Linked DNA regions of Homo sapiens. The protein of the gene in region 5 purifies or fractionates together with the protein of the main gene of each other region. This does not show direct contact. Each region holds a gene or a part of one and is shown on either strand. Other genes may lie near its edges.

Region 1 (3,500 bases), on a different chromosome or scaffold from region 5:
TATTGCTGGCAATCCTTGGCATTCCTTTCTGAGTAAATGAACCACTCCGATCTCTGCCTCCCTCTTCATGTCACCTCTACTCTGTATGTCATCTTCTTTTCTGTCTCTTATGAGGACACACCATTGGATTTAGGGCCCACTCTAATTCAGGGTGATCTCATATTTCTAAATAAGGTTACACTCTCAGATACCTGGGGTTGGGACTTGGACATATCTTTTGGGGACCACTCTTCAGTCCACTACAGGCAGACTTCCCGTAGAAGGTAAATGTTAAGGGTTCAGGATGGAAAAGCTGGGTGGGGGATAAGGCACTTGTCAGAGCCCTGTTTTCCCATGGCAGCAGGAACGCCCCAAGAGTGCTGTGTTTCCTGGCGAGGGGAAGGTCAAGATGAGCGTGGAGGAGCAGATTGACCGAATGCGGCGGCACCAGAGTGGCTCCATGAGGGAGAAGCGGAGGAGCCTGCAGCTCCCGGCCAGCCCGGCCCCCGACCCCAGTCCCCGGCCAGCCTACAAAGTGGTAATGCCTTCCCAGCTACCCACAGGCGTGAGCCTGGCATCTGCCAACACTGCCCACTCCCAGGGCATGGCCAGCTTGGGCCTGGGGGGTTTGAGAGGAAGGAGAGGGGAAAGAACCCAAGCTGGGCACCTGGGAGAGCCGGAGAGTCCTCTCCCCCATCGGCAGAAGAGTCCTTCAAGTGTTGACTTTTTCTTGTTTAAAGAAAATAACTCACAAAAAGGAATGCCTTAATTATGTTTGTTGAAATGAATTATACAAAATTCACTTAATAGAGAATAGTACAGAATTCACCACACAGAAATAGCTGTCACTTACACCCATTTCTGGAGCATCTCCTCTGTGCCTAGCACTGGGCTGGCTGCGATGAAGATAATCATAATAGCTCACCATTGCATGGCACAGTATAATCCACAAATCCCTTTCATGTTATTTCATTTAATCCTTTTAACAACATTGGGTTAGGAATTATTATCCCTATTTTGCAGATGGGGAAACAAAGTCAAGAGAAATTAAAGGATTCCTGGGCTACACAGCTATTAAGTACAGAGCTGGATGTAGCCCAAGACATCACTTAAATTTTCTTTCCATTAAATTTTAGAAATATGGAAAAATTATGACTCATAAGTCCTGTCCTCAACAGCTTACATTCTAGTTGATGGATTAGAACTTCTATAATATGAAATCACTGGAAGTTAGCCGGGTGTGGTTGGCTCCTCATGCATGTAATCCTAGCACTTTGGGAGGCCAAGGTGGGAAGATTGTTTGAGACCAGGAGTCTGAGACCAGCCTGACAACAAAGCAAGACCCTATCTCTATAAAAACATGTTTAACAAGTAGCTGGGCATGGTGGATTCACCTATAGTCCCAGCTACTTGGGAGGAGGCTGGGATGGGAGGACTCGAGGCCAGGAGTTGGAGACTGCAGTGAGCTATGATTCTGTGACTGTACTCCAGCTAGAGTGACAGCAAGACACTGTTTCTTAAAAAATAAAAAGAAGAAATCAATACAAGTCACACTAATTCAGCTGCCCAAAATATGTAGCACAGAATGAGAATACAGGGTAGAGCAGGATGGGGAACAGCAAGAACTGACAAGAGATGATGAGATGTTGCCCCTGGGGCCTAGCAGGTGGGCAGGCTTTGGGCCAGCAGAAAGGAAGGAAGATAGTTCTGCAGTGGGGTATGGTGGGAGCAGTGGGGTGGCAGCTAGATCAGGCGAGCTGGGAAGGGAAAGCGAGGACAGGGCATAGCTAGAGCTGCCTGGAGGCATGGGTAGCCATGGTGCAATCACGATGCTGCTGTCCCCTAGGTGCGCCGCCACCGCAGCATCCATGAGGTAGACATCTCCAACCTGGAGGCAGCCCTGCGGGCAGAGGAGCCTGGCGGGCATGCCTACGAGACACCCCGGGAGGAAATTGCCCGGCTTCGCAAAATGGAGCTAGAGCCCCAGCATTATGACGTGGACATCAATAAGGAGGTGAGTGGAGCCAGGAAGGGCTGTAGTGGGAGACTCTGGGAAGGGACAGAGGTGGTGACCCCAGCCCCTCCATAGCTCTCCACTCCAGACAAAGTCCTCATCCCTGAACGGTACATTGACCTGGAGCCTGACACTCCCCTGAGCCCTGAGGAGTTGAAGGAGAAGCAGAAGAAGGTGGAGAGGATCAAGACACTCATTGCCAAATCCAGGTAACCAGCCTGGGTGAGCCTCTACTTCCTCTGCTCACCCTGGCACCTAGGACACCTGGGCCACTAGAAGTCGTTGGGGGCACAGAGCCTCCCCAGGGGAGAGCACATCGAGGTGGTGACTCCAGGCAGCAGACAGGGCCCAGCTACCGGCAGAGGCAAGGATGCTGCTGTCAGGTGCTACTAAGACCTGCCAGGCTCGTGCACACCACACCATCGAGACAAAACTGAAGGCTCGCCCTCTGGTGACTTCTTTTCCCCTTCAAGGCTGCCCTAAATGCTCACTTGAACCTTTTAATTCATTTGAGAACATTGAAGGTAGGGGTCCCAACCTGTGTTTTGCCAGGGTCCCACTCACTCCTAGGGACAGCCTTGCTGGGAACCAGAGACTGCACATTCACGGGGCCCTGGCCCTCCCTGCCAACCTCAGTCCGCAGGCCCCCTCAAGCCACTTGGACCATCCTGTCCCTCCCTCCATTTCTGTGTGTCTGTGCCTCTTCAGTATGCAGAACGTGGTGCCCATCGGCGAGGGGGACTCTGTGGACGTGCCCCAGGACTCAGAGAGCCAGCTGCAGGAGCAGGAGAAGCGGATTGAAATCTCCTGCGCCCTGGCGACCGAGGCCTCCCGCAGGGGCCGCATGCTGTCTGGTGAGAGGGGCTGGGCCTCGCTCCACCCTGCCAGGGAAACCAGCTGACCAGGTTTAAGGGAGGAAGCGTGGCACTGCTACAAGGGGGGCAGTAGCAAAGAGATACAAGGCTGAGGAGATGCTCCTCGAGGTTGAGACGAGCATCTGTTGAGCACCAGGTACTGTGCTAGGCTCAGGGAGGTGCAAAGGGGCCAGAGTTGCTGCATCCAGGAGCTCAGAGCCGGGATGATCCTTACAGCCACCTTAGGGAGTAATGGCCAGAGGCCATGCAGAGCATGGGGAGCCATTCTGCTTGGGCAGGTCAGGGAAAGGCACAGAGAAAAGATGACAGCTGAGTTTGACTGAGAAAGATAAAAATATTTCTCAGTTGCAGGGAGAGGGCCAGGTATTCCAGAGTATCCTTTCATTTCCTGCTTTTGCTGCATGCAAATAGGAAGAAGCCAAGAAAAGATAGTGAGGGCAACCAAAGAGTTGAGAGCGATGCAATTACCACCTTGGCTACTGATCCAACTCACTTTTCTGCTAAGAAAAGATAACTATGAGGAACTGACTTCACGCTGATACAAAGGCTACCAGGTCCTGACTAGATGCTGATAGGGCTGAGATCAACAGGGTCAGCTTCTACTCAGCCTGAGATATCATCCCAGAATAGAT
Region 2 (3,500 bases), on a different chromosome or scaffold from region 5:
CAAGCAAAGGGGAAGCCCCTTACCATCGGCTGTCATGAGAACTCACTATCACGAGAACAGCGTGAGGGTAACTGCTTCCATGATTAAATTACCTCCCAACAGGTCCCTCCCGAAACACATAGGGATTATGGGAACTACAGTTCAAGATGAGATTTGGGTGGGGACACAGCCAAACCATATCAGTATCCTCTAGATTAATTTTCATAAAATGTACTTTTCCTTACATTTCTTTCCTACTCAGGATCATTTATTGACTTAGTGTGACTCACTGAATTCTGCCTATCTTTTGGGACTCTATATGAACATTCCCCAGCAGCTTCCGTTAACTGTGTGACTGTACTTTTCCTTTCTGTGTGCCATGTTCACTTCTGCTTCCTTTCGTTGTCTGTCTTTTTGCCAGCCTGAATTCCGCATCCTCCTGTATACCTGTTCTGTTAGTGGCTATCTCCCTCTATCTGTGGAGATCATTTGCTCCCTGTTACCTCTACAGCCTGGATCCCACCACCTAATGAACCAGCAGGGTCTTTAAAAATACTTATTGATTAGATGTGGATCTTATTTTTTAACATAAAAATTTGTTATTTCTTAAGTATTTACAGGTATTTAAACATATTCCTGGCCAGGTGCGGTGGCTCACGCCTGTAAGTGCGGTGGCTCACGCCTGTAAATTCAGTGGCTCACGCCTGTAATCCCAGCACGCTGGGAGACCGACGCGGGCAGATCATTTGAGGTCAGGAGTTTGAGACCAGCCTGGCCAACATGGTGAAACCCTATCTCTACTAAAAATACAAAAAAATTAGCCAGGCATGGTGGCACGCTCCTGTAATCCCAGCTACTTGGGAGGCCTAGGAAGGAGAATCGCTTGAACCTGGGAGTCAGAGGTTGCAGTGAGCCGAAATCGCTCCACTGCACTATAGCCTGGGTGATGGTCAAGAGAGACTCCATCTCAAAAAAAACCAAAAAAACGAACAAAAAAAACTTCCTGTTCTTTTTGTATTAAACAAATGATTGTGTCAGTTTTCACAGGTTTAAAATTTTAGTAGTTAAGTAATCATGTGATTCACGTAGATTTGATTGACGCATCATCATTATTTAACATTAGTGCTTCGTTGTTTTTTACATTTAGAGAGACAGTATAACATACTGGTTAAGGTGCAAAATCTGGAACCAGACTGCCTGGGTTTCAATTTTGGCTCATCTATTTATTACCTGTGACATGTTGGCAAATTATTTAACATCTGTGTCTGAGTTTCTTCATCTGTAAAACAAGGTGATAATAGCACCTACCTCACGTCTTTAATGAGGCTTATATAAGTTAATGTATGTGAAGTGTTAATGTATTTGTATAACCAAGTGCTAGGTATGTGTTAGCTATTGTTATAATTGTTATTATTTATGTGGCATTTTATGGTGTTAAAACTATTTTGCATTTACTTTGGTCAGAGTAAAATTTTTGTGTTTCTAGTAGGTAGCTTAGATTTTTGGTTTTCCCAGAGACTGCTTTTCCCTTCTTGCCCACCTATGATCTCCCTTCACTATCTGTGTACAGTTAGTTTACCACCGACTGGCTAATCCTGGAGTCATCTTCACCTGTCTTGCCCTAGAATATTATGCCTCTGGCCAACTGGTTAAAACCCCACTTCTGGATTCAAGTTAATGTATATCATTTAAATAACAGCTTTGTAGAAATGTAATTCACATTCCATAAAATTTACTCTTTTAAAAACATGTAAAACAAAGTGTATAACTTATTTCTCCTTGATAATTAAAAGATGAATGATCTTCTGGTTTTGAAGAAATTGAACTTTAACAGACTCTAAGGCAAGATTATTGTAGATCTAAATCATTGTGTAGATCCTGGATTTCATCTCATTACACCTGGGGCAGGAACTGTGTATTCTATGTAGCCTTTTATTGCTGACATTTTTGCCTTACATTTTTTGTATTAAACACATAGGCACAGCTTCTTCAACCAAGCGGAGCACTTCTACAGGTAATAAAGAATCCAGTTCTACTAGAGAAAGATTACGTGAACGTACCCGATTAAACCAGAGCAAAAAACTACCTTCTGCAGGTCAGGGAGCTAATGACATGGCATTGGCCAAACGTTCCCGCAGTCGAACTGCTACAGAATGTGACGTTCGTATGAGCAAGTCTAAGTCAGACAATCAGATCAGTGACAGAGCTGCTTTGGAGGCCAAAGTGAAGGATCTTCTCACGCTGGCAAAAACCAAAGACGTAGAAATTTTACATTTGAGAAATGAACTGCGAGACATGCGTGCCCAGCTGGGCATTAATGAGGATCATTCTGAGGGTGATGAAAAATCTGAGAAGGAAACTATTATGGCTCACCAGCCGACTGATGTGGAGTCCACTTTATTGCAGTTGCAGGAACAGAATACTGCCATCCGTGAAGAACTCAACCAGCTGAAAAATGAAAACAGAATGTTAAAGGACAGGTTGAATGCATTGGGCTTTTCCCTAGAGCAGAGGTTAGACAATTCTGAAAAACTGTTTGGCTATCAGTCCCTGAGCCCAGAAATCACCCCTGGTAACCAGAGCGATGGAGGAGGAACTCTGACTTCTTCAGTGGAAGGCTCTGCCCCTGGCTCAGTGGAGGATCTCTTGAGTCAGGATGAAAATACACTAATGGACCATCAGCACAGTAACTCCATGGACAATTTAGACAGTGAGTGCAGTGAGGTCTACCAGCCCCTCACATCGAGCGATGATGCGCTGGATGCACCATCCTCCTCAGAGTCGGAAGGCATCCCCAGCATAGAGCGCTCCCGGAAGGGGAGCAGCGGGAATGCCAGTGAAGTGTCCGTGGCTTGCCTGACTGAACGGATACACCAGATGGAAGAGAACCAACACAGTACAAGTGAGGAACTCCAGGCAACCCTGCAAGAGCTAGCTGATTTACAGCAGATTACCCAGGAACTGAATAGTGAAAACGAAAGGCTTGGAGAAGAGAAGGTTATTCTGATGGAGTCTTTATGTCAGCAGAGCGATAAGTTGGAACACTTTAGTCGACAGATTGAATACTTCCGCTCTCTTCTAGATGAGCATCACATTTCTTATGTCATAGATGAAGATGTAAAAAGTGGGCGCTATATGGAATTAGAGCAACGTTACATGGACCTCGCTGAGAATGCCCGTTTTGAACGGGAGCAGCTTCTTGGTGTCCAGCAGCATTTAAGCAATACTTTGAAAATGGCAGAACAAGACAATAAGGAAGCTCAAGAAATGATAGGGGCACTCAAAGAACGCAGTCACCATATGGAGCGAATTATTGAGTCTGAGCAGAAAGGAAAAGCAGCCTTGGCAGCCACGTTAGAGGAATACAAAGCCACAGTGGCCAGTGACCAGATAGAGATGAATCGCCTGAAGGCTCAGCTGGAGAATGAAAAGCAGAAAGTGGCAGAGCTGTATTCTATCCATAACTCTGGAGACAAATCTGATATTCAGGACCTCCTGGAGAGTGTCAGGCTGGACAAAGA
Region 3 (3,500 bases), on a different chromosome or scaffold from region 5:
CCAGTGACAGTGAAGTGCACTCAGGGGGCTCACACAGACCACAATCACAAGAACAAACTCATGGCCAAGCCGGATCTCAACATGGAGAGTCAGGATCCACAGTTCATGGGAGACACGGAACTACTCATGGACAGACAGGAGATACCACTAGACATGCCCACTATCATCATGGAAAATCCACACAGAGAGGGTCCAGTACAACTGGAAGAAGGGGATCTGGCCACAGTGAGTCCAGTGACAGTGAAGTGCACTCAGGGGGCTCGCACACACATTCAGGACACACTCACGGCCAAAGTGGATCTCAACATGGAGAGTCAGAATCCATAATTCATGACAGACACAGAATTACTCATGGACAGACAGGAGATACCACTAGACATTCCTACTCTGGTCATGAACAAACCACACAGACAGGGTCCAGGACAACTGGAAGACAGAGAACTAGCCACAGTGAGTCCACTGACAGTGAAGTGCACTCAGGGGGCTCACACAGACCACACTCACGAGAACACACTTACGGCCAAGCCGGATCTCAACATGAAGAGCCAGAATTCACAGTTCATGAGAGACACGGAACTACTCATGGACAGATAGGAGATACCACTGGACATTCCCACTCTGGTCATGGACAGTCCACACAGAGAGGGTCCAGGACAACTGGAAGACAGAGATCTAGCCACAGTGAGTCCAGTGACAGTGAAGTGCACTCAGGGGTCTCACACACACATACAGGACACACTCATGGTCAAGCTGGATCTCAACATGGACAGTCAGAATCCATAGTTCCTGAGAGACATGGAACTACTCATGGACAGACAGGAGATACCACTAGACATGCCCACTATCATCATGGATTAACCACACAGACAGGGTCCAGGACTACTGGAAGAAGGGGATCTGGCCACAGTGAGTACAGTGACAGTGAAGGGTACTCAGGAGTCTCACATACACATTCAGGACACACTCATGGCCAAGCCAGATCTCAACATGGAGAGTCAGAATCCATAGTTCATGAGAGACATGGAACTATACATGGACAGACAGGCGATACCACCAGACATGCCCACTCTGGTCATGGACAGTCCACACAGACAGGGTCCAGGACCACTGGAAGAAGGTCATCTGGCCACAGTGAGTACAGTGACAGTGAAGGGCACTCAGGGTTCTCACAAAGACCACACTCACGAGGACACACTCACGGCCAGGCTGGATCTCAACATGGAGAGTCAGAATCCATAGTTGACGAGAGACATGGAACTACTCATGGACAGACAGGAGATACCAGTGGACATTCTCAATCTGGTCATGGACAGTCCACACAGTCAGGATCCAGTACAACTGGAAGAAGGAGATCTGGCCACAGTGAGTCCAGTGACAGTGAAGTGCACTCAGGGGGCTCACATACACATTCAGGACACACACACAGCCAAGCCAGGTCTCAACATGGAGAGTCAGAATCCACAGTTCACAAGAGACACCAAACTACTCATGGACAGACAGGAGATACCACTGAACATGGCCACCCTAGTCATGGACAAACCATACAGACAGGGTCCAGGACAACTGGAAGAAGGGGATCTGGCCACAGTGAGTACAGTGACAGTGAAGGGCCCTCAGGGGTCTCACACACACATTCAGGACACACTCACGGTCAAGCTGGATCTCACTATCCAGAGTCAGGATCCTCAGTTCATGAGAGACACGGAACTACTCATGGACAAACAGCAGATACCACTAGACATGGCCACTCTGGTCATGGACAGTCCACACAGAGAGGGTCCAGGACAACTGGAAGAAGGGCATCTGGCCACAGTGAGTACAGTGACAGTGAAGGGCACTCAGGGGTCTCACACACACATTCAGGACACGCTCATGGCCAAGCCGGATCTCAACATGGAGAGTCAGGATCCTCAGTTCATGAGAGACACGGAACTACTCATGGACAGACAGGAGATACCACTAGACATGCTCACTCTGGTCATGGACAGTCCACACAGAGAGGGTCAAGGACAGCTGGAAGAAGGGGATCTGGCCACAGTGAGTCCAGTGACAGTGAAGTGCACTCAGGGGTCTCACACACACATTCAGGACACACTTATGGCCAAGCCAGATCTCAACATGGAGAGTCAGGATCTGCCATTCACGGGAGACAGGGAACTATACATGGACAGACAGGAGATACCACTAGACATGGCCAGTCTGGTCATGGACAGTCCACACAGACAGGTTCCAGGACAACTGGAAGACAAAGATCTAGTCACAGTGAGTCCAGTGATAGTGAAGTGCACTCAGAGGCCTCACCCACACATTCAGGACACACTCACAGCCAAGCCGGATCTCGACATGGACAGTCAGGATCCTCAGGTCATGGGAGACAGGGAACTACTCATGGACAGACAGGAGATACCACTAGACATGCCCACTATGGTTATGGACAATCCACACAGAGAGGGTCCAGGACAACTGGAAGAAGGGGATCTGGCCACAGTGAGTCCAGTGACAGTGAAGTGCACTCATGGGGCTCACACACACATTCAGGACACATTCAGGGCCAAGCTGGATCTCAACAAAGACAGCCAGGATCCACAGTTCATGGGAGACTGGAAACTACTCATGGACAGACAGGAGATACCACTAGACATGGCCATTCTGGTTATGGACAATCCACACAGACAGGTTCCAGATCTAGTAGAGCAAGTCATTTTCAGTCACATAGTAGTGAAAGGCAAAGGCATGGATCAAGTCAGGTTTGGAAACATGGCAGCTATGGACCTGCAGAATATGACTATGGGCACACTGGGTATGGGCCTTCTGGTGGCAGCAGAAAAAGCATCAGTAATTCTCACCTTTCATGGTCAACAGACAGCACTGCAAACAAGCAACTGTCTAGACATTGACAGTTATTTTCTAGTTCTGACCTTATAGTATCCAAAGCAACTAAAAGAACAGGAAGACACAGTTTAAATCATGAACAGTCAATGGTAAGTTATGAACATTCAGTTGATTCTCAGTATCAGTCTCGACCTATTATTATAAGAAGTCAGGAATCTAGTCATGGACATTCTATAGTAACTCATAAACAGTCAAACAACACCTATGTTCAACCTGGATATAACACAGCCAGAAGGGAGGGATGTACACATAGCCAGTCAAATGACCACCTTGGATTTGGCCATGGACAATCCATATCAGTTCATGGCCATTCAAAATCTAGTTCAATCAGAAAACAGGAATCCCATACTGATAACAAAAAGCATTCAGAAGATTGGGAGAAAGACACTCATGAGCAATTAGGATCTAGGCATGGGAAGTTAGAGTTCAATACAATAGGTATACATGGATCTAGCCAGCAACATTTCGGAGATACAACTTTTCATGGGCAGGTAAGATCCAGCACAGGTTTTGCCAGATAGGTATTAAGTCATGGGCCATCAAGAGATGCCTAGGGTCAGTCTGGATTCAGTACCAATGAAAGACAAGTATACAGCCATGGCCAATCA
Region 4 (3,999 bases), on a different chromosome or scaffold from region 5:
GGGCGTGGTGGCACACGCCTGTAATCCCAGCTACTTGGGAGGCTGAGGCAGGAGAATTGCTTGAGCCCGGGAGATGGAGGCTGCTGTGAGCCGAGACTGTGCCACTGCATTCCAGCCTGGCCGACAGAGAAAGACTCTGTCTCAAAAAAAAAAAAAAAAAAAAAAAAAAAGACAAGTAGAATTGTCATAAATCATGTAACAAAACACATTTATACTTTAAAAAAGACATCTCCCTGCCTGTTCCAGATGTTCAAATGCCAGTTTAAGAAAAACCTGGCCAGGCGCGGTGGCTCCTGCCTGTAATCCTAGCACTTTGAGAGGCCGAGGGAGTCGGATCACAAGGTCAGGAGTTCGAGACCAGCCTGGCCAACATGGTGAAACCCCGTCTGTACTAAAATACAAAAACTAGCTGGGTGTGGCGGCGGGCGCCTGTAATCCCAGCTACTTCGGAGGCTGAGGCAGGAGAATCGCTTAATCCGGGAGGCGGAGGTCGCAGTGAGCCGAGATCGCGCCACTGCACTCCAGCTTGGGCGACAGAGTGAGACTCCGTCTCAGAAAAAAAAAAAGAAAAACCCCTGGTCTTCCACTGATTTGGTTCAAAATATTTTACAGACTGCACCATCTGAAATACATTACCTCTCCTGTTACCAATATGAAAAAAAAGAGGACCTTTGGTTCCTCAGAAAAACACAAACTGTTATTTTTTTAAAGAAAAACTTATCAAGAGATGAAATCGGAAAAACTTAAGTCTTTAATTCTGCCCTTGGGAATGTAATAAATTATTCCTTTTATATTCCAATACACAAAGAACTCTTGTAGACAAGAATCAGGCTCAACAAACTAAAAACAGCATGTACCTAGGATCCTGGCAGTTTACAGGTGTTTGATTATCCTTAACCAGAGTAACTCATTAGAAGCATTTAAAACTATTTAGGAGGGGGGAGGGGGAAGCCCAGGAGATAAGTACTATATCTCTTATCTTTTTGAAACCCTCAAAGCTCTACACTCCAGTTATACTGCTTGAACAAACAAATAACATAAAATTGCTAATTTAAATTCGAATGGAAATAGTAACTGGTTACGTTTCACTCCAAAATTGGGTCAAACAATAGGAAAGGGGGAAAAATCTACTTTTAAAAATGTAATTTAAAAGCAAGATGGGGATATTCATTAGACCTCCTTCACTTTGAGAAAGACAAAAAACAAATTCAGTTTTGGCTTATCTCACCTGAGTCCTTCTGAATAATGCCTGAAACACACTAGCTAAAATCACAGACGATTACTGAGCAATGTTCTCTTTTTACAAGACCCCCAAGACCAGAAACAGTCACTTCCTTTGGAAGTGCCCTGTGGCTGAGGCCATATGGTTAACATGTGGGAACAAGCACAAGCCTTACCCATAATAAAATCAACACCTAAACCCAAATGTGGACCATTATGCCATTCTAAAACAGGTTCTCACGATATGGAAAAATCTAGATGGAGGGGAGCTAGTTGAATTTCGTGTCTCGTTTGTAATTACATCTGTTTCATTAATCCAAGAAATGATGCAGACTACCGCCCGCTGCTGTGGTTTTGGAGGTTTGACAAATTCGTGTTTTTTCTGGTAATGGCGCTTTTAAAGGATCCCAGCAACTTAAATAGTGTTAACTCTTGGAATGTGAGCCCCATCAGCCCCTTTTGGAATGGTAATGTAACACAAGCAACTTAGTATTTAAATGACGATAAAAATTCAAGAATCGGAAAACTATCAAGGATAGGGAGTATAAACTCTAAAAGCTCCCAAGTCTTCCAGCAGTCTCGCCACTCCAAACACAAAGGCTTCTTCAGGAACCCTTTGTTGTTGTTTGTTTGTTTGTTTGTTTGTTTTTTTAAGACGGAGTCTCTCTCTGTTGCCCATGCTGGAGTGTAGTGGCGCGATCTCGGCTCACCACAACCTCGGCCTCCGGGGTTCACGCGATTCTCCTGTCCAGCCTCCCGAGCTGCTGGGACTACATGCGCCCGCCACCATGCCCGGCTAATTTTTTATTTTTAGTACAGACCAACTTTCACCATATTGGTCAGGCTGGTCTCGAACTCCTGACCTCGTGATCCGCCCGCCTGGGACTCTCAAAGTGCTGGGATTACAGGCGTGAGCCACCGCGCCCGGCCTAAGAACCCTTTTCTAAGGCCCCCAAAACCCTTGGCACATGGCCCGCCAGGCGCACGACCCCAGCACATGGCCTGCACGACTATACCCACCCCATCCCCCCTTCATCCGCAGCCGGGAGCCTTTCCCCACCACACGGACTCCTTCCAGTGAGTTCCCGCCAAATCCACCCTCGGTCCCTCATTCCGCGACCCTCGAAGCGTCAGGGCCTCGGCCCCAAGGGCGCACGGGCGGGCCTCCTCTGCCCTAAGCCTGCGGCCTGGGGTGCGGCCGTGGCGCCGAAAGACCCGCATGCTCGGCGACCCAGCTTTCCAGGACGAAGAAAGGACAGAAGTGTCGTCCGACAGCGGTGCGCCAGAAACCCGGGTCCGAGGCGGCGGCAGCAGCCGAGCTTCCCGCCTGACGCAGCAGAGGCGCAGGCCAAAGTGCGGCCGCCATCGCCACCTCGCCGCTCCCTACCCTCTCTGTCCGCCACAGACCCGACCCGCACTGCGGCTCCGTCAGCGCCGGGCCCCTCCCCCAGCCCTCACCTTCCGCGTCGGAGCGGGCCCGCAGCGGCGGAGACTCGGACGCAGGCCTGGGGAAGACGGCTCGCAAGGTAGAGGCTGTTTATTTTGAGGGTCCTTGCCTGCGCCACACGCGGGTCTGCACACGGCCCCACATACGCCGCTGCGCACGGCTCTCCTCCGCCTCGCCCACGCGGCCAATCAGCGCGCGGGGTTCGGCAGTCCAATCAGAGCCGCCCGCGGCAGGGCCGCCCACTAGAGCGCGGCGCGGGGCGGGTGTTTCTGCGCGCAGCGTCTTTTCCCGCCGTGCCCCGCGCGCGGCCTTTCACGCCGGGATCCGGGTCCCGGTGCTTCTCGGTTCATTCCCAGCTGGGTCCGGGCCCGGCCAGACTGGGTGGAAATCTGGCTGACCTTGGTGGTCTGTCTTGGCCAGCTGGAGCAAAGGGATGCCAGGGGACGGGTCTCGGTGCAGTGACTGCCATTAGCTTGGGGCCGCAGAAAGTTTCTCCCCTTTCTCGGGCTCCTGCCAGGCCCTTGGCTTTCAGAGCCAGGCCCGATTTCTAGATAACATTTAAGTTTGCAGAAAAGGGGATGCCAAGTCACGGTGGTCACGGCTGTGGGATGCAGCCTCTGAGATTTGTATTAATTTTTGTGAGCCGGGGAAAGGCCTTGCTGCTTTCTCCGCCAGGACTGATGTGTCTTCCCAAGATGAAAGTGCCTGGTAAGGGCGAGGGGCCTCCCTGGGAAGGTCATGAGCATGTAAGGTAATGGGGCCTAGACTGTGACTTTTGGCACGTTTATGAGTGACATCCCCCGGGAGGGCAAGGATAACCATTTGACCTGGTCTGTCATATTCAGGAATAGACTTCAGTTTAGTTGTGGTATTTTCTCCAAAAGAGATTTGTGTATATAGCCCTAGATAGTCTTGTCAAGATTAAACCCAATTTAAACTGTTAACTATAAAATATTTTAGAATTTTGTCTCATTCTAGAATGGCTTTATTCGAAACAAAAAAAAAGGAAGAGTCCCAAGTTTCGTCTCAGTGAAACCTGCCAGTTCAACACTATGATTTATTTTTCTTTTTTTCTTTAATTTTTTTTTTTTTTAAGAGTAGGGTCTTGCTCTGTCGCTGGGTTTACAGGCATAAGCCACCAATCCCAAATCCCGGGGCTATGATTTTTGAAATCATGTTCGTGAGAAGGCAGAGCACATGTGTTGAGAGTCAGACTTTAAACCTGGGTTCAAATCATTAGTGCTTAATCATTGTAAAGCAGTTAGGAGGTTGCGTTCAACATAGCAATTATCAAAGAATGAATGTATAACTTTAAAGACCAATGATATTTT
Region 5 (2,943 bases):
CGGGCCCTGACTGCTTCCCATTCTTCTGGTGCCTTCTCTTGTTACCTTTGAGTTGGTGGAAGCAGAGAAAACATTCAATCCCTTCTTGTTTCCAGATTGCAGGGGAGCATCCCTGTAGGGAAGCTTCTGTGTGTTTGATAGTCTTTTGCCCTCCTCAGTCCTGAATGTTTGGAAGCGCAATGCAGGGCTGCTGGGATTTGATTCCAGCCCTTCTGTCTGCGGTGCCTGACGGGGCTGAGCCTCCCGCCAGGGAGGTGCTAAGTGCTTCCTCTTTGTTTGCGCTTGCTGCAAAGCCAGGCTGACGGTTTCTGCTGAAAACACTGCTACAGCTGTACTCGGGTTTCCAGCGGCTTCAACTTTCTGGGAGCTTTTATGTTTTGTCTCTGTACACAGACTTTCCTCCTTTGCACCATGGACAGTCTGGCTGGGCCCTGCGCTCTGCACCCAGCAACTGTTGTGAGATGGCTTTCTTTTCTATATAGTTTTTTGAAAGACATTTATTTATTTATTTTTCTACCAACGATAAAAGAATATTCCGGTATACTTGTGGTCAAAAATTTTGAAAATATTAAAAAAGGCATAAAAGTAAGAAAGAAGAATCACTTCCAGTGACACCTTTCAATGGCCACTGTGAATTCTCCCCTCCCTTTCTCCCTGTCTGTCTGGTTTCAACGTATTCCATATGGGTAGGAACCAATTTCTGCTGTGGAATAAATGGCTAGGTAGAGAGGTGTCGGTGGGCCTTTTTTCTTTTCAACTCTTGTGTCAACGTCAAGCCCCTCCTAAATGGGCAGAGCCTCGATCACCCTCTTGCCAAAAACACACAGGAACCCATAACAATCCTCAATCCGGAGCAATAGGACTTCTGCAACACTTTTCCCCCAAATTCAAATCTCCTTTGAAGAGCCTAAAGCTTAAAGGCATAAGCTTAACCCTGGGCTATGTGGGAAGAGGCAGTCTGAGAAAAACTTCACACGCCAGCGAGCAAAGGCCATCGGAAGTTACGTACGCCAGACTCAAAACTCAGGGTTCTACTTTGTTCTATAAGAACGCCCAGAAAGGAGAACTCCCATCAAGGTAGAAATGTAAAGCCGAGAACAGCGCTGAGCACTTGGGTGTAACTCAGGGACTGATCCTGCGGTGGCCCGTCTCTCCTGAGAGCCCACCTCCCGCCTGAACCAACCCTTTTTTCTGTTTGGTAAAGGCATACACATCTTATATTGCTTTGGACACACGGTTCTTACTCTCTTGCAGGCTTAGCAGTTGTTTCACAAGTCTGCTCTCCCTATTTTTGTGTGGTTTCTTTCTTGTTTGACTGAAATCATATGCAAACAAAGTCGAAAGTGTCTGTTATCACCCTGATGGCTTCTGCAGCATTGTCTTGCTTCCCCTCACCCCATTCACAGTTCCCAGAGAGCCTGGCAGGTGTCTCGGGGCCCCAAGATGAGTGGTGCCCGTGCGCCGCGACCCCAGCCCAGCGTAGCCCAGCCCATCGCTCGCCTCATCCAGGCCTGGGGGACCCAGTGCGCTCGTCATCTCTCCACCTTTCCTTCCTTGTCTAAAAAGGCCATCGGGGAGTTCATTTTGGTGGACAAGGATGTGAAGATAAAAAAGAAAGGTAAAATCTACAGCCTTAACGAGGGCTACGCCAGGGACTTTGACCCTGCCGTCACTGAGTACATCCAGAGGAAGAAGTTCCCCCCAGTAAGTGAGGGCCCGGGGAGGGTGGTGCAGGTTCTGGGCATCTGGCACCAGAGGCCGTTCTGGAGGCAGGGGCATCCCCCGGAGATGAAAGGGATCCTTGGGATCGAGGGCCTTGGGCCTCATGTGGGGCTCCTGAGCAGTGTGGAAATCTATTGGTTGATGACTTACCCTAAAGGTGAAAGGAAGCAGGGATGGAGTGGATTGGGCTTCCGTCTACACTGAGCCCACGATGAAGTTCTCACCTCAGTACTGGAGACTGGAATTCTCACCCTGAGACATCAAAAATCAGTCTCCATGTCAGCCTTTGCTACTTTCTCTTGGCAGAAGAAAATTAGGATAATAAAGTTAAACAAATGAATGAATTCATGGCAGTAAAACATCTTCCCTTCTGGGGTCCATGGTCCCAGATGGGATGAAATGTGGTTCCCCCACTCAAATGCCCGTCAAGTGGTGTCTGCCCCTTGCTAGGCCTGCCTGAGGTGCATCTATCAGTTATCTCGAGACCGAGAGTGCCCATCGTGACATCTCCCTAAAGAGGTTACAAGCTAGTGAATATGAAGAGAAGAAATGGCTGTGTGGAGCTTGCTCTATATGGAATATCTGATTTTGTCCTTTCTTTGTTTAAAAGCCATCGATGGCTGCTGTTTGCTAGAGATGAAGCTCAAATGTTTGCAGGACGTTCAAGGAGGCCTCAGATCTGCCCCAGGCTTTCTCTCCAGCTTACTCATCTCTCCTTTCACCTTATCCTGGATTCCCCTCCTGCCCCCAAGCTCCGCACACGCACACCCGAGTCCCACAGGCTCCTCCTCCAGGACCATATCCCTCTCCACATTGCTAAGCAGACACTTGTGCAGTTTCCTCTCCTGTAAATTACACACTGCCTCCCACCCCTGCCCGGTTCCTTAGCTTGGTAACAAACTTTCTCAGCCTTTAAGGTGTTACTAAATGGTACAGTTTCTGTAATGCCTGCCTCAGCCCCATAACCAGAATCAACCATACCCTCGTTGGGGCTTCTGTGGGCAATCTGACCTATTGTGAGATGATGAGAGGCTGTCTCCATTTTTCCATTTTCTATTTATTGGGAACAGGATTCTCATCACATTTTTTAGCACAGCCCCAAATACATACCTTGTAGGTGCTCGGTGAATGGATGTGGAATCAAAGAAACTTAGGAGACACCAAGAAAACTCTCTTTCTTATTTTCTGCAATCCTAATTCTTGCTGGTCTTAACTTGCAGG
Region 6 (3,464 bases), 1.0 Mb from region 5:
GCGCCAGCCCCTCCCTGGAGCGGGATCGCCGCAGCTCTCCTGGCCGCCTCCGGCGCCGTTAGCCCACCATCCCCCGCTAGAGGGCAGCACGGGGCGCTTTCTCCAGGCGCTCGGCGGACCTGGGTACGGGGACCTCATATCAGGCTGCAGAGAAGAGCCTTCAGTCAAAAGGATGGCATGAAAAACGGACTATACTTGTAACATCCAGCTTTTAAAACGTGGTGGAGTCAAATTTATTGCTTCCTCAGGGCTTAAAAAAACCTCTTCTGTAAGTCTGCTTTATCAAACAGAATTTTTTTATCCCCTTGGTTGCTTGAAACTGAGCTATCAAACAAATTAATCATATATTAATGTCCCTCTAAGCCGGAAACCTGGAATTACTTTGAAAAGGTAAAATATTTTTCAACTTTGGTTTTCTGATCTTTTCAGTAGTTGTTTCGATTTGAATTAAACCTCTATAAAATTAGCTTTTACAAGTGAATTTAAAAGCCACGCCATACTTTATACTAAAAGAATAAAGATTTTTATTAAGCATTGTAAGTTGCATTCAATAGCCTTCAGATACACCACACCACAATCCATCGACAGTCAATCAAACCCAACAGCAGTTCATTCTTGCACAATCCATGAGTTAGGGCAAAACTCCCTTCAACTTACAGTAAGATCCTACTTAGCTCTTGCGGGCAGGGGTTGGGGAATTACACCTCATTTCTGATCACTAATGTGATGAAGAGCATCAGAAGTATATGAAAACGATAAGAAGTGATTCTGATTTCAAAGTACATTGTTTGGAAACATTAACAAAAACATCAAAATGATAGAAGTATACCTGCTTCTACTAAATTCTTGATGGGAAAGTTCTCAAGAACAAGCAATTTGTTTCCTGCTACAGAAGGGGGGGGTGGTTTTTTTTTTTTTAAGATCAAAGGGTTTTTTTTCACAGAATTTCATATTTGCTAATATGAAGGCATAAAACAGCAACAAAGAACAATAATGCATACAGCAGTGAATACACCAGGGTAATGTTGATATTCGAAACGGCTAGATAATTTTTGGGGGGCTTTAGAATAAATGCAACAGAGGTCAATAATCACAAAATTTTAAGGTTAGAGCAAGATCAGTCAATGACTAAACAGAGTTAACATCTTTTATAGGACTATTACTGATTATTAGCATTTTTGTTTTGCAAATGGGCACATACTGTTAAGAATGGAAGAAAGGACGATAACATGCATATTAACTACACACTTTAAAAATTATGAACCATGCAGAAGTTTAGCTCAAGTAGTAGTACTAATGGTCTACATCCGATTCAAAACCACATAGTTCATTGATCACAGATGCATGGTATTAGTCACGAAAGTTTCAGAACACATTGTGTTGATTTTGAAAGGTCATTTGCATCTTCTATGATTTCAACTTTATCTCCATTTAACTTGCTTGTAAAGTATGTATGATGTATTGTATATTTAAAATCAGCAGAACGGCAATATTACTCTATAATTTTTTAGTTTTGATAGTTGCACTTTTTTTTTTTAACACAAAAGAACCACATCAACAGTGATGAAATTTAAGAAAGAAAAACTGTGGTTGTGCCTTATTTCTTTCATAATCATAAAAATCAAAGCCTTAAAGAAAGCTTCATTGTGAAACAGTAATGCAAAATCAAATATAATGGCATACATATGGTGCCAAATGCTAAAAATTATATTTTAAGCTATATATACTTAAAGACTGCCAAAATTTGTTTTCTTTATAGTTCAAGAAACACAACTAAAGGCTTTTGTCATAACCAGTTTAAACTTTATGTGTACTTCATTTTAAGTGCGGGAGTCAAATGCTCTTCATTTTCTTTCTCTTTTTTGTTTTATTGTAGCATTTTGACTACAACTGGTTAAAACTAAAAATGTGTTGTTTAAATCTCTGATATCAAAGAGGGATCTGAATTTCCAAAGTCCTCATTTTTCTCTTACGGAAAGGACAAAATGTACATAACTGCAGGCTCTCTTTCTCTCCAGATATTCCTAAATCCTTACCCTTCCAGCATCCTTCACCCTCTATAAAAAATAAGTTTACTCTTCTTTATTTAAGACAGCTGCCTCCAGAGCAGCTTCTCTGCGGCAAGCGCTGTCTGTACTTAGTGCATTTAAATGAGGATTTGTATTGCACGTTTTAGAGTCATTATTCAAGGCACTTTCAGAGTGGCTGGGGGCCCTGGCGTCACCCGTGCTCCCGTTCATCTGGGGAGCCGGCTTCTCCTCGGCCATCACTCCGTTTTCAGCCAGGGACCCGTCTGAAGACATAGCAGAGGACTTCGATTCCCCAGATTTTGACTTAAGTTCTTTGGCCACTTCTTCTGCTGAAGCAGCATAAGGAGGTCTGCCCTGTTTAAAATGAAGGACAACAAATGAGAAGGTGGTTTCTGATAAACAGAAGAGAGAGGATGCCAATTTTGGCCTAATGACACTCTCTGCAGATTCAAGAGCAGAAAATGCCCAGCTGGGTCCTTCTAACCCTGTCTTTGCTTTGACTTTTGGGCGGTAGATGCTCTACCTGTCTCAGTCAGTTCCCTCCATGGCCCCTTCCCTCAACTCCTCTGTAGTTAACACCCTGAAAATGAGGGAGATTCCCCCTTCAGGAGCTCTGTCTAATCCTTTGTATGGCACTAAATTGTTTAAAGTAACAAATGCCCCTCAATAAGTCCTCTCTAAAATTGCGACTGTTCCCACTGCCACAAAACAAACAGGGTCTCCCACATCTGCCTGTGATGTGCAGCAGCACACACACCCCATTTCTACTGGGGAAATACAGTCATTGCTAGGGAACCTTAACAAGAAATCTGCACTGATAATTGCCACGTGTTTGTGAAATAACTCTTCTGAATGGGTCTTCCCCACTCCTCTGAACAGATTTAAAAATAAGCCTCTGAAAAAAATGGTCCTTGAGACTAATCCAGCACATTTTCTGAAAGACATGGCTCTCTGTGAAGGCAGTGAAGACAGATCTTGAATTGCTCCTATCATTAGACCAGGGCTCCTCAACCTTAGCATATGATACGCTGGCTCTGTCCACTCTCCGTGATGGGGCTGTCCCACACACCGTAGGGTGTTTAGCAGCACAAACATCATGTTGTCTTCACCCGTTAAAATGTCTAGGCTTCACCCATTAAAATCCAGTGCCCACACCAAGTCTTGACAATCAACGTCTCCAAATGTCCCTTGGGGGCCAATCACCAGGGCTGAGAGCCACTGTCATAGACTGACTCGGTGCTGAAGAAAACATGGATGTTTTTCACCTTCAAACAGTCATTTTACAGACGAGAACAGGAACCTTCCAGCTCGTCATCGCATTCCCTTCCCAACAAAGATGGTGGTACCTTCCAGCATCTTCTAGGCCTCCCATTCTGAAAACCAGGGTATTTGCCTTGTTGATGACAAAATCATCAACCCAGATGGAGATGTGAC
Region 7 (2,260 bases), on a different chromosome or scaffold from region 5:
TATATATGGTACAGTCACTGGTAGCTGTTAAGTTGCCAGTGGGACTGGGGAACTGGATTTTAAACTTTATTTAATTGTAATAATTAAAATTTAAATAGCCACTTGTGGATGGTGATTACTGTTTTGGCACAGGCAAAAGTCTACTCTCTTGCTCACTGGCTAGATTTGGGGCAAGCTATTACATCTCATGTTTGGAACCTCAGTTTCCTTATCCACCAAATGGGAGCACTGTTTCTCTGAGGTTACTTTTTAGCCCAAGTAAGTTCCTTATGTGAAAAGCACCAAAGCTCTGTATAGGCAGACAGAGCAGTTTCAGAAATTAATGGTGCCTGGACTGCAATGAATGGAGTCTCTGGGTTGGGACCCCTGGCAGGAATAATGGCAGGACCAATCATGAGACTGCACCCAGTGGGGAGCTCCAGGCACAATTACCAGCCATCTGGTCTCAGGGAAAAGAAGCCCCACCTCCCCTCCTTTCACACACACACACAGCATAGACCTCATGCAGCCCCAAAGGGGCAAAAAGAGACTTTAATTAGGGGAGGGAGGATCCACCAGAATCAGAAAAGGGACAGCTAGCGTGGGAGCAGAGGAGCCAGAACAGGCAGGAGGAGGGCCCGGCCAGGAAGCTCTGGAGGACTCACCTCGCCACCTCTGGCACAGGCACTGGCACTGACGGACAAGGCGAAACAGCGGCCCCTCTCAACTGGGAGGGCACCCAATGGCCCCTGTAGCCAGAGGTTGCCCGGCTTTTGGGCCCCAGGTCCTAGGCATGACTGGTGGTCACCAATTTGGCCCTTGTCCCCAACCAGTGCTGGGGGGCCATCTTTAGGCAGAACTCAGGAAGCTGGCAGAGAGTTCCCAACACTTATACTGGGGCCAAGGAGGCTTGGGAATAAAAGGGCAAGGGAGAAACTGGAGTCTGAAACCTCCCTCCCTCCCCACCTGGGGTGGCATAGGAGAGAAAAAATAAGTCGCCTTCTGGCTCCAGGCCCGCCCAGACCCACAGCAACCAATAACGTATAATCACTGGGACCAGTCACAGCCACTGGAGGTGGAGGTTTAAAAAAAAAAAAAAAAAAAAAGACAAAAAGGTTACAGTATCCTACAAGCACAGAGTTTAAGTTTCAAGACGTTAAAAAAAATCTGTCCCGGCCCAGGGGACTGAACATCAGAAGCCAGCCTGACCAGGCACGTGTGGCCTTGGGGCAGGTCCACTGCTGCTTTCTTGCCCAGCTAGCAAGCACACCACCCACCTCCCGCATCAAATGCCCACCCCAACCCAACTCCCTGCCGCCGCCGCGCTGCTCGGGGAGTGACTCCAGGACGCCTTCGTGGAGACATGGGTAGTCTGAGGGGGAAGGCCACGAGATCCAGCCAGATGGTTTAAAACTGTCAAGAGAACCAAGAGGCAGTGCATGGTGGTTATTATTGCATCCTGGTGGCACTGCTCTAAGGAGGTGCATGAACCTGAGAGCTGCCACTGTGCTCATATCTGTGAGGGGCAGAGTTGGGTCCCAGGACACCTTGTGGTCATGCTCTAATTCAGCCAGCTTTCAGAAGTGACCTATGGGCACCGGCCCTAAGCCTAGCACTAGATAAGGCAGAAAAATTAAGAGCCATGAGAGCTTCTCCACAGCTCCCTTGTGCCCTGGCATGGAGGCTGCTAGAAAGCCCTGCCAGCGTCCTGCCTGGTGAACTGAGGTTGCTTTCTTTAGGCATGGGGGCTCTCATGCAAGGGGCCTGGGGACTCAGAGGGCCAAGTGGAAAAGGACCCAGGTTCTGGTACTTTTGTGTCAAGCTCTGGATGAACCTCCAACCAAGCCAGGCCCTTGAAATGTTTTCTGCCCTCAAGGGTCCCCCATGCTGCCTAGGACAGCCCTGCACATTTTAGAGACCAAAGGTTGTGAACCAATGGCCCATGCCTGAAACTAGCCCAAAGATGAGCACTGCATGGCCCACATGGTGTTTAAAACAATATGAATTAGTTGCCAACCTTGAAAACATGGAAGATGCCATATACAAATCCAAATTTGGGGGTTCAATGGCCTGGAGCTGTGTGGGAGCCAGCCCCTGCACATGAGGCATGCGCTCAGCAGCTCCTCACCCTGCCCACTCCATACTCAGCCCACTCCATAGCTACCCGACCTTTGGATGCACCTGAATTTGTGACCCTTGACAAAGGCTATGGTACTTTCTTAGACCTCTGAGTCCGAAAACCCAGCTCCACATTCTGGTTCCTCCTCTTACTGGCTGAGGG

Evidence for each region.
Region 1: the proteins of FBP1 (region 5) and PLEKHA6 purify together in Homo sapiens (affinity purification with mass spectrometry, with the first as the bait; one large-scale study listed by BioGRID). This does not show direct contact.
Region 2: the proteins of FBP1 (region 5) and SPECC1L purify together in Homo sapiens (affinity purification with mass spectrometry, with the first as the bait; one large-scale study listed by BioGRID). This does not show direct contact.
Region 3: the proteins of FBP1 (region 5) and FLG2 purify together in Homo sapiens (affinity purification with mass spectrometry, with the first as the bait; one large-scale study listed by BioGRID). This does not show direct contact.
Region 4: the proteins of FBP1 (region 5) and CNBP purify together in Homo sapiens (affinity purification with mass spectrometry, with the first as the bait; one large-scale study listed by BioGRID). This does not show direct contact.
Region 6: the proteins of FBP1 (region 5) and FAM120A purify together in Homo sapiens (affinity purification with mass spectrometry, with the first as the bait; one large-scale study listed by BioGRID). This does not show direct contact.
Region 7: the proteins of FBP1 (region 5) and ARPC4 purify together in Homo sapiens (affinity purification with mass spectrometry, with the first as the bait; one large-scale study listed by BioGRID). This does not show direct contact.

The regions. Positions count from the first base shown.
Region 1 is NC_000001.11:204,227,430-204,230,929, reverse strand, and holds part of PLEKHA6 (pleckstrin homology domain-containing family A member 6), read left to right. Parts: intron 1-340; coding exon of another isoform or gene 341-343; coding exon 344-517; intron 518-1,825; coding exon 1,826-1,993; intron 1,994-2,068; coding exon 2,069-2,202; intron 2,203-2,701; coding exon 2,702-2,847; intron 2,848-3,500.
Region 2 is NC_000022.11:24,319,331-24,322,830, forward strand, and holds part of SPECC1L (cytospin-A), read left to right. Parts: intron 1-1,957; coding exon 1,958-3,500. UniProt on the Homo sapiens protein: Involved in cytokinesis and spindle organization. May play a role in actin cytoskeleton organization and microtubule stabilization and hence required for proper cell adhesion and migration.
Region 3 is NC_000001.11:152,350,007-152,353,506, reverse strand, and holds part of FLG2 (filaggrin-2), read left to right. Parts: coding exon 1-2,897; 3' UTR 2,898-3,500. UniProt on the Homo sapiens protein: Essential for normal cell-cell adhesion in the cornified cell layers. Important for proper integrity and mechanical strength of the stratum corneum of the epidermis.
Region 4 is NC_000003.12:129,181,097-129,185,095, forward strand, and holds the start of CNBP (CCHC-type zinc finger nucleic acid binding protein), read right to left. Parts: upstream 2,801-3,999; 5' UTR 2,680-2,800; intron 1-2,679. UniProt on the Homo sapiens protein: Single-stranded DNA-binding protein that preferentially binds to the sterol regulatory element (SRE) sequence 5'-GTGCGGTG-3', and thereby mediates transcriptional repression. Has a role as transactivator of the Myc promoter.
Region 5 is NC_000009.12:94,605,576-94,608,518, reverse strand, and holds part of FBP1 (fructose-1,6-bisphosphatase 1), read left to right. Parts: intron 1-1,566; coding exon 1,567-1,704; intron 1,705-2,942; coding exon 2,943-2,943. UniProt on the Homo sapiens protein: Catalyzes the hydrolysis of fructose 1,6-bisphosphate to fructose 6-phosphate in the presence of divalent cations, acting as a rate-limiting enzyme in gluconeogenesis. Plays a role in regulating glucose sensing and insulin secretion of pancreatic beta-cells.
Region 6 is NC_000009.12:93,563,149-93,566,612, reverse strand, and holds the end of FAM120A (constitutive coactivator of PPAR-gamma-like protein 1), read right to left. Parts: exon of another isoform or gene 3,050-3,464; intron 2,385-3,049; coding exon 2,073-2,384; 3' UTR 501-2,072; downstream 1-500. UniProt on the Homo sapiens protein: Component of the oxidative stress-induced survival signaling. May regulate the activation of SRC family protein kinases. May act as a scaffolding protein enabling SRC family protein kinases to phosphorylate and activate PI3-kinase.
Region 7 is NC_000003.12:9,805,342-9,807,601, reverse strand, and holds the end of ARPC4 (actin-related protein 2/3 complex subunit 4), read right to left. Parts: intron 1,393-2,260; coding exon 1,387-1,392; 3' UTR 501-1,386; downstream 1-500. UniProt on the Homo sapiens protein: Actin-binding component of the Arp2/3 complex, a multiprotein complex that mediates actin polymerization upon stimulation by nucleation-promoting factor (NPF).